3 linked regions of the Homo sapiens genome follow. The protein of the gene in region 2 purifies or fractionates together with the protein of the main gene of each other region. This does not show direct contact. Each region holds a gene or a part of one and is shown on either strand. Other genes may lie near its edges. The genes, in order: SCAPER, CCNA2 and PHF8.

Region 1 (3,658 bases), on a different chromosome or scaffold from region 2:
TAAATTCATAATTTTAGATTTTAGTTCTTTGACTTAGAGTATCATTGGAAAACACAGTACTATTGTTTCTCTTCTCTGTCCAAAGTAAAAATAAAGGCTTGACTCTGCTAAATTGGAAGGTTTTTAAAAAATGGGTATGTATTTAGCCTAAGCCACTGTTTGCTTTTTATATTGTATTTACATTTCTGTTGGTTTGTTATTAAATATTCCTAAAGGACAATAGGGAAGATATCTAAATCTAAAGTGTATGAATGTCATAATGAGACACTACATGCTTTCAATCTTCACCCTTAGGTCATGCTTTTCTCTTTCAGATCGGAGAATTGGGTTCATGTACCATATGAATTTTTAACAAAGATACTTTGAGATCATGTTAATATTATCTGAAGAGAATAAGTTTTATATTTTTGTGTAAAATGCCCTCCAAATATATTGTTGTAAAAATTGGTTTCAGGATTTTTTCAAAAGTACTGAATGTCCTCATTTGATATTAGACAGTCTTTGCAAAAGACCATGTAAATACTTTTGGTTGTATGAGTATAATACAGTGAATGAATGCCTCATACTTGTGACTAGATTTCATTTGCGAAGGATACAAAATACTCATCACAAATTGGCCTACTACAAGAAAATTACAATATAAATTGCTTAATTTCTTAGAAAACTTTGGATAGTGCCCAGTACATAGTAGGCATGCAAGTAAAATTTGTGCTTAATGGTCCCTGTCCTTTTGTTACACTTGAAACATACAAAAAAGATGAGTAAATTTTCTGTCATCCAGTCAAGTACCTCTTCTTCTTCATAGTTAATAGGTTAAGCAAAATCATCTCTTCTTCTAAAGTGGAATAGTTGGTATTTTTTAATTATCTCTGATTCATTCTCTACGTTTTGTTAGTTCACAGTGAGTACATTGGATGATGTGAAGAATTCTGGCAGTATTCGAGACAATTATGTTCGAACTTCTGAAATATCTGCTGTCCACATTGATACAGAGTGTGTTTCAGTTATGCTGCAAGCTGGTACACCTCCTTTACAAGTAAATGAAGAAAAATTTCCAGCAGAGAAAGCAAGGATAGAAAATGAAATGGACCCTTCAGATATTTCAAATGTGAGTGCTGCTAACTTGGTAAGAACAACTTATCAGAATTCTGAGTATATTTAAGAAGCATAAACCCCAATAATAATAACTTGTATGATTTATACTTTTTAAAGCATTTTTATATATTTATTTCATTTTAACATTTTATTATTTTGGTAAACTTTTGATATAGTTAAGATTCTTATTTTTTAGAGGAAGAAAGTGAGATTGTGAGAGTTAAGTGACTTGTTCAAAATCATTTGGTTTGTATGTGATTTGATCAAATGCTCTTAGCCCAGAATTAAGAATCTAAACTAGTAACAATAAAGTCTTCTATGCTACATCTAGCATTCTGATAGATGGGAAATGGTGTCTGCTAGACTTAGTTTTAAAAACTTTCTTAACAGAGTACTTTAGACAGCCACTATCATTTGCTTGGAGTTGGTCTTTAAGATGAAATTTATTTACCATCCCTATTCCAGAATCTCTAAAAATGCATTGATTTGTGATTATTTATAGATTTATGGTTTTGGATGATAACATATTTCTACCCATCTCTTCCTTTTGCTCATTTTAGTATTAGGATACTTGACCTGGGGATAATCCAGAATAAATCATGCTAACTTTGTTTAAAAACTAGCTTTCCAAAGAAATAGGCACATATAAAAAGCTGTGAAAAATTACTTAATTTTTACTTTTTAAAGGCTGCTGTGGACTATAATTTCTTCTAAAATTTAATGCCTAATGCTGACAGATCTTAACAACACATGGTATTAGGTAAAATTATACATTTTATAGGGATAATAACAGTAGAGATGAAACTTGATATTGGTTGTTTAAGGGTAAAAAGGAAAAGGTTATAGTAATACAAAAAACAAATGTTTAGATTCTTTTAATAAGGTAGAACAATTGATTTTCATCTTGTGTCTTTTAGTAATGAACATTTCTAAATGTTGAACATAATTATGCTCAAATAAGTAGTGAGTTTATTGTATGGGGTGGAATTTGGTCATTTATTTTGTTTTAGCAGTTGTATATCAAATTGTATATTTTTCAGTTTGATTCTGTGAGAATCAAATTTTAAAAGAGGAAAACTCTCATCCTTAAATAAGCATGAAATAATTAAAAATTCTGACCTCATTATTTTTATTTTCATCACATATATAAACTTGCAGAGTCATAAACCCTTTTGGTTATTTTGAGGGTCAAATTTGCATACTTGAAAGAAAATAAATTCTGCTTTAATGTGGATATTAGTGTATTCTTAGAGGTGTTAAGAATACTTTTTGTTTTGTTTTGACAAACCAAGGGTGATAAGGTGATAAGCACCTTATTGTTTAGTTCCCAAGTGGAGAGTTACAGAGAATTCCTGTAGTGATGAGACAACTGTTTTTTCTTTTCTTTCTTTTTTTTTTAAAATTATACTTTAAATTCTAGGGTACATGTGCACAATGTACAGGTTTGTTACATAGGTATACATGTGCCATGTTGGTTTGCTGCACCCATCAACTCGTCATTTACTTTAGGTATTTTTCCTAATGCTATCCCTCCCCCAGCCCCCCACCCCCTGACCAGCCCAGGTATGTGATGTTCCCCGCCCTGTGTCCATGTGTTCTCATTGTTCAACTCCCACCTATGAGTCAGAACATGTGGTGTTTGGTTTTCTGTCCTTGTGATAGTTTGCTTAGAATGATGGTTTCCAGCTTCATCCATGTCCCTGCAAAGGACATGAACTCATCCTTTTTTATGGCTGCATAGTATTCCCTGGTATATATGTGCCACATTTTCTTAATCCAGTCTATCATTGATGGACATTTGGGTTGGTTCCAAGTCTTTACTATTGTGAATAGTGCTGCAATAAACATACGTGTGCGTGTGTCTTTATCGTAGAATGATTTATAATCCTTTGGGTATATGCCCAGTAATGGGATCGCTGGGTCAAATGGTATTTCTAGTTCTAGATCCTTAAGGAATCACCACACTGTCTTCCACAATAGTTGAACTAATTTACACTCCCACCAAGTCTTCCACAATAGTTGAACTAATTTACACTCCCACCAACAGTGTAAAAGCATTCCTATTTCTCCACATCCTCTCCAGCATCTGTTGTTTCCTGACTTTTTAATGATCGCCGTTCTAACTGGTGTGAGATGGTATCTTATGTGGTTTTGATTTGCATTTCTCTGATGAGCAGGATGATGAAAATTTTTTCATGTGTCTGTTGGCTGCACAAATGTCTTCTTTTGAGAAATGTCTGTTCATATCCTTTGCCCACTTTTTGATGGGGTTGTTTTTTTCTTTCACTCTCTTTTTTTTTTTTTTTTTTTTTGAGACAGAGTCTCACTGTGTCCCCCAGGCCAGAGTGCAGTAGTGCAGTCTTGGCTCACTGCAAGCTCCACCTCCCAGGTTCACGCCATTCTCCTGCCTCAGCCTCCCGAGTAGCTGGGACTACAGGCGCTTGCCACCACGCCTGGCTAATTTTTTGTATTTTTTAGTAGAAACGGGGTTTCACCATGTTAGCCAGGCTGGTCTCGATATCCTGACCTCGTGATCCACCCGCCTCGGCCTCCCAAAGTGCTG
Region 2 (2,628 bases):
GTATAATGTATTTGTTAAATGTGGCTAAATGAAATTGAGAGGATAATGTTTAAATTTTTAAACTAATGAATTATTCTAATGCTACAGTTAAGTTTATAGCATGTAGCCTCTCGTAATTAATGGTAAAATAATCTAATTGCAGTTTTTACACTAGAATAATTTTAACACTATAAATAATTTTCTCAATAGGTTAAATGTAAACCTAAAGTGGGTTACATGAAGAAACAGCCAGACATCACTAACAGTATGAGAGCTATCCTCGTGGACTGGTTAGTTGAAGTAGGAGAAGAATATAAACTACAGAATGAGACCCTGCATTTGGCTGTGAACTACATTGATAGGTTCCTGTCTTCCATGTCAGTGCTGAGAGGAAAACTTCAGCTTGTGGGCACTGCTGCTATGCTGTTAGCCTCGTAAGTCTACCTTGGTTTGTTTAAAAGTGATCACGACCTTTTGTCTAGGGAAGAAATTGATTTTTTTAATGGTGACCTTTTAACATACACCAGGCAGAGTCAGTGACTACTTTAGGGATGGCAATGTGCTGGGGCTTAGGGCAGTGGAGGAGGATGAAACTGTTCTAATCTAGAACACTAATTTTCCCCCAACTGGATTCCTTGAACATGATATAGTACACTAGGTTACAAATTTTAAAACATTTTCCTTCCAATATTACTTTCTGGCATATAAGCAGTGTCTCTTTTATTAAGAAGTAAAGGCTGGGTGCGGTGGCTCGCGCCTGTAATCCCAGCACTTTGGGAGGCCGAGGTGGGCGGATCACTTGAGGTCAGGAGTTTGAGACCAGCCTGGCCATCATGGCGAAACCCTGTCTCTACTAAAAATACAAAAATTAGCTGGGCATGGTGATGCATGCCTGTAATCTCAGCTACTAGGGAGGCTGAGGCAAGAGAATCGCTTGAACCCAGGAGGTGGAAGTTGCAGCGAGCTAAGATTGCACCACTGCACTCTGGCCTGGGCGACAGAGCAAGACTCTTGTCTCAAAAAAAAAAAAAAAAAAGAAAGAAAAACTAAATTTAAAAATGAAAACATGAAACATGTTTTCCTAAGACTTGTATTTCCTAAATTTTCAGCTACTTGGTGAACTCTGGCATTGTTCCCATCTCGAGAAGTCTCATGCCTTTCATTTACTTCCTTTGACTGAACTGGGGAAAATATCTCAAAAGTCCTTTATTGATTTGGGCCTTTTAATTAGCAATTAGCTATCCAGTCTCTACTAGAAATGATGATCAAGTGTCTGGAAATGCAGTTGGTGTGGATTTTGGATTCATTCCATATTCTGCTAATGGGATTTCAGAACTGGGATAAGGAAGCTTGCTTCTCTTTTAGGACTGATTACTTAAAACTTTTTTCATTGTAGAAAGTTTGAAGAAATATACCCCCCAGAAGTAGCAGAGTTTGTGTACATTACAGATGATACCTACACCAAGAAACAAGTTCTGAGAATGGAGCATCTAGTTTTGAAAGTCCTTACTTTTGACTTAGCTGCTCCAACAGTAAATCAGTTTCTTACCCAATACTTTCTGCATCAGCAGCCTGCAAACTGCAAAGTTGAAAGTTTAGCAATGGTGAGTTAACTTTCATTTTGTTGAATGGTGATTCTTTGGTAATAATTAGGGGTAAGCCCTAATTCCTTTGTAAAGGAACCTAGTTCCTTTGTACAGCAGTGGTGAAGAGATTTAGTATTCAGAGGGAGATTAATGCTGCAGTATGGAAGAAAGCCTACTGCTGGCAAAAGATAATCTATATCAGGAAAGCACTAGAAGCAGAGGTCTAAGGATGACATCTTGGGGATGGGTAGTCAGAAGAGTTGTTTTTTAAAAGTTAATAAAGGAGGGAAAATACAGGATGAGGATGGAACAAAACACTAAAATGATTGATATGTTTAAAGATGAGGCTGTGAGATATTTTTTCTAGAGTTGCTACAGAGCCGTTATCAAAGGCAGGAAAAAATTAGGTTAGAAGGCAGAGGTTTGACATTTGAATTCTAAACGCTCTTGTGATCATAAAGTATTTTTTATTCCAGTTTTTGGGAGAATTAAGTTTGATAGATGCTGACCCATACCTCAAGTATTTGCCATCAGTTATTGCTGGAGCTGCCTTTCATTTAGCACTCTACACAGTCACGGGACAAAGCTGGGTATGTATTACGGTCTTCACACACCTATCTTGTGACTGAAATGCCTGTGCCAGATTAAATAATAATTGTCCTACAAAACTGAGGGTTGCCTAGATGTTCTTACTTGGAAAAACTTCAAATATATATAGTTGACCTTTGAAAAACACAGGTTTGAACTGTGTGAGTCCACTTACACATGGATTTTTTTCCAATCAAATGTGGACTGAAACTACAGTATTCAGGGGATTCACAACCCATATATATGGAAGGGTGACTGCAGGACTTGAATATGTACAGATTTGGGTATATTTGGGAAGGGTCCTGGAACCAATCCCTCATGTACACTGAGGGATGATTATATACTGTTTAAGGCATGTTACCTGTTGAACAGTGTTTGTTAGGTAGTAAGCTTAGTTGTAACTTGGATTGAAAGGTGAGCTTTTTTAAAAGCATCTGACCTGTTGCTGGCAGGGAAAGTAGTAGAAAATGGATCG
Region 3 (3,658 bases), on a different chromosome or scaffold from region 2:
GGATTTTTAGCACAAATTTCACTCTACAGTTTTCCTGTTTATAAAAGAAATATTGGTTGATACATGCCCAAGGGAATAACTTTGGTGTGGATTTTTAACTCTAGAGGAAAGGACACTGATTTCAGATCTGGGTTCAAATTCTGATTCTGTTACATATTAGCAAATAATTTCTTATCTGTGAAGCCTTAGTTTCCCTGAGAGGTTGTGATGATTTAAATAAAATGGTTATAGCTATCGTTTATTGAGCACAAGCTAGTGTTCCACTCACTATGCTAACCACTTCGCCTAATTATCTTTATCTTTTGGGGGAGTTTTAAAAATTATTCCATTTAGTAGTTATAGGACTATTCAAATTACCTATTTTATGTTGGATGTGTACTTTCCGAGAATTGACCCATTTCATCTAAGTTGTCAAATTTATGTTTGTAGAATTGTTCATAGTATTTCTTTATTATCCTTTTGATATCTTCAGGTGCTGTAGTGATAATTTTGTTTCATTAGTGATACTAAAAATGTATCAGGCTGGGCATGTGATGTCATTCATGCCTATAATCCCAGCACTTTGGGAGGCCAAGGCTGGTGGATTGCTTAAGCCCAAGAGTTCAAAACCAGCCTGGGCAACATGGTAAAACCCCGTCTCTACAAGAAATACAAAAATTAGCAGGGTGGGTGGCACATGCTTATAGTCCCAGCTGCCCGGGAGGCTGAGGTGGGAGGATTGCTTGAGCCCAGGAAGTTGAGGCCTCAGTGAACTGTGATCATGCCACTACACTCCAGCCTGGGTGACAGAGCGAGACCCTGTCTCAAAAAAACCGAAAACAAACAAACAAAAAAAATTTGTCTTCGTATTTGTCAGACTTGCTAGAGGTTTGTCAGTTTTATGGATCTTTTCAAAGAACAAGCTTTTTGTTTCATTGACTTTTTCTGTTGTCTTTCTGTTTTCAATTTAATAGATCTCTGCCTTTACTATTTTTTTCCTCCTTTGGTTTATTTTGCTCTCTATCTAGTTTCTTGAGGTGGGAGATTAGATTATTGATTTGAGACTTTCTTTTCTTTTTTTTTTTTTTTTTATTTTTTCTGAAACAGCCTGTTGCCCAGGCTGGAGTGCAATGGCGCGATCTCGGCTCGCTGCAACCTCCACCTCCCGGGTTCAAGTGATTTTCCTGCCTCAGCCTCCCTACTAGCTGGGATTATAGGCGCTCGCCACCACGCCCAGCTAATTTTTTGTATTTTTAATAGAGATGGGGTTTCACCATGTTGGCCAGGCTAGTCTCGAACTCCTGACCTCAGGTGATCCACCCGCCTCGGCCTCCCAAAGTGTTGGGATTACAGGCGTGACCCACAGCACCCGGCCTTTCTTTCTTTTCTAATGTAAGCCTTTAGCTGTTAAGTTTCTTCTCAGCACCAATAGATTTTAATATGTTACATTTTCCCTTTTCATGTAGTTCAAGGCATTAAAAAAAAAAAAAGTTTTTTTTTTTTTTTTTTTTTTTTTTTTTGAGACAGTGTCTCAGTCTGTTGCCCAGGCGGTACTGCAGAGGCAGGATCATAGCTCTCACTGCAGCCTCCAGCTCCTGGGCTAAAGTGATCCTCCTGCTGCCTCAAGGCATTTTTAAATTCCCCTTGAAACTTCCTGTTTGACCCATGAAGTATAGAAGTATGTTGTTTAATTTTGAAGTTTTTGTAGAGTTTCCTGTTATCGTTCTGTTACTGACTTCTAGTTTGATAGTGGTCAGAGAATATACTTTGTATGATTTCAATTCCTTTACATTTATTGAGATTTGTTTTATAGCCCAGAGTCTATCTTGGTAAATGTTTCATGATCACTCGAAAAGAATGTGTATTCTGCCATTTTTGGGTAGAGTGTTCTATAAATGTCAATTAACTACTGTTGGTTAATGGTGTTGCTGAATTCTTCTAATCCTTGCTGATTTTTTCTTTTTTCTTTTCTTTTTTTTTTTTTTTTTTGAGATGGAGTTTCGCTCTTGTTGCCCAGGCTGGAGCGCGATTTGGCTCACCGCAACCTCCGGCTCCCAGGTTCAAGCGATTCTTCTGCCTCAGCCTCCTGAATAGCTGGGACTACAGGCATGTGCCACCACGCCCAGCTAATTTTGTATTTTTAGTAGAGACGGGGTTTCTCCATGTTCGTCAGGCTGGTCTTGAACTTCTGACTTCAGGTGATCCGCCTGCCTCGGCCTCCCAAAGTGCTGGGATTACAGGTGTGAGCCACTGCACTCGGCCTACTCATTCATTCATTCATTTATTTTTGAGACAGGGTCTCTATGTCACCTGGGCTGGAGTGCAGTGGTTTGATCATGGTTTACTGCAGCCTCAAATTCCAGGGCTTAAGCAATCTCCTCATGCTTCAGCCTCTACAATAGCTGAAACTGCAAGCATGTGCCACTGTGTGCCCTAATTTTTAAAATTTTTTGTGTGGGGAGGGTGTGGGTGTAGGTTGGTGGTACCTCCCTTTGTTGCCTGGGATGGTCTTGGACTTCTGGCTTCAGATGATCCTCCCACCTCAGCCTCCCAAAGTGCTGGGATTACAGGCATGAACTACTGCTCTTGGCCCGAGTTATCTCTGTATTGCTTTTTTCAGTACTTGCTCTAGGTATTACATTATACATATAACTTACCATAAGCAACTGCTCTTGACATTTTACCAGTTTGATTGAAGAGTAGAAACTTTACTTTTCTTTTTCCTTTTTTTTTTTGAGACAGAGTCTCACTCTGTCACCCAGGCTGGAGTGCAATGATGTGGTCTCGGCTCACTGCAACCTCTGCCTCCTGGGTTCAAGCGATTCTCCCACCTTAGCCTCCCGAGTAGCTGGGACTACAGGTGTGGTCCACCATAGCCGGCTAATTTTTGTATTTTTAGTAGAGACGAGTTTTCACTATGTTGACCAGGTTGGTCTCGAACTCCTGACCTCATGATCTGCCCGCCTCAGCCTCCCAAAGTGCTGGGATTACAAGCGTGAGCCACCATGTCCGGTTGAAACTTTACTTTTCTTTATATGCCTTAATGCTCTTTTGTTTATAATCTAATTAATCGTTTTGTTGTTGTTGAGACAGAGTCTTGCTGTGTTGCCCAGGCTGGAGTGTAGTGGAACAGTCACGGCTCACCTGCAGCCTAAACCTCCTGGGCTCAAGTGATCCTCCCACCTCAGCCCCCCACCCCCCAGTAGCTGGGACTACAGGCATGCACCACTATGCCTGGCTGATTTTTTTTTTTTTTTTTTTTTTTTTTGAGACGAAGTCTCGCTCTGTCGCCCAGGCTGGAGTGCAGTGGCGTGATCTCGGCTCACTGCAACCTCCGCCCCTCCAGGTTTAAACAATTCTCTGCCTCAGCCTCCAGAGTAGCTGGAATTACAGGCGCCCGCCACCACGCCCAGCTAATTTTTTGTATTTTTAGTAGAAACGGGGTTTCACCATCTTGGCCAGGCTGGTCTTGAACTCCTGACCTCAAATGATCCACACGTCTCGGCCTCCCAAAGTGCTGGGATTACAGGCATGAGCTACTGTGCCCAGCCTACTCATTCTTTTAGGATAAGTGTTGGCAACAGATACGTTTAGTTTTCCTTAATCTGAGAATATCTTGATTTCCCTTGAATTCTTAGGGGATCTTTTCACTTCATATCGAACTCTGGGTTTCTAGTTC

The links.
Region 1: the proteins of CCNA2 (region 2) and SCAPER purify together in Homo sapiens (affinity purification with mass spectrometry; 5 studies listed by BioGRID and IntAct, with this or other methods). This does not show direct contact.
Region 3: the proteins of CCNA2 (region 2) and PHF8 purify together in Homo sapiens (affinity purification with mass spectrometry; 5 studies listed by BioGRID and IntAct, with this or other methods). This does not show direct contact.

Annotation. Positions count from the first base shown.
Region 1 is NC_000015.10:76,769,192-76,772,849, reverse strand, and holds part of SCAPER (S phase cyclin A-associated protein in the endoplasmic reticulum), read left to right. Parts: intron 1-895; coding exon 896-1,108; coding exon of another isoform or gene 1,109-1,126; intron 1,127-3,658. UniProt on the Homo sapiens protein: CCNA2/CDK2 regulatory protein that transiently maintains CCNA2 in the cytoplasm.
Region 2 is NC_000004.12:121,818,327-121,820,954, reverse strand, and holds part of CCNA2 (cyclin-A2), read left to right. Parts: intron 1-189; coding exon 190-413; intron 414-1,375; coding exon 1,376-1,583; intron 1,584-2,041; coding exon 2,042-2,155; intron 2,156-2,628. UniProt on the Homo sapiens protein: Cyclin which controls both the G1/S and the G2/M transition phases of the cell cycle. Functions through the formation of specific serine/threonine protein kinase holoenzyme complexes with the cyclin-dependent protein kinases CDK1 or CDK2.
Region 3 is NC_000023.11:54,034,413-54,038,070, reverse strand, and holds part of PHF8 (histone lysine demethylase PHF8), read left to right. Parts: intron 1-3,658. UniProt on the Homo sapiens protein: Histone lysine demethylase with selectivity for the di- and monomethyl states that plays a key role cell cycle progression, rDNA transcription and brain development.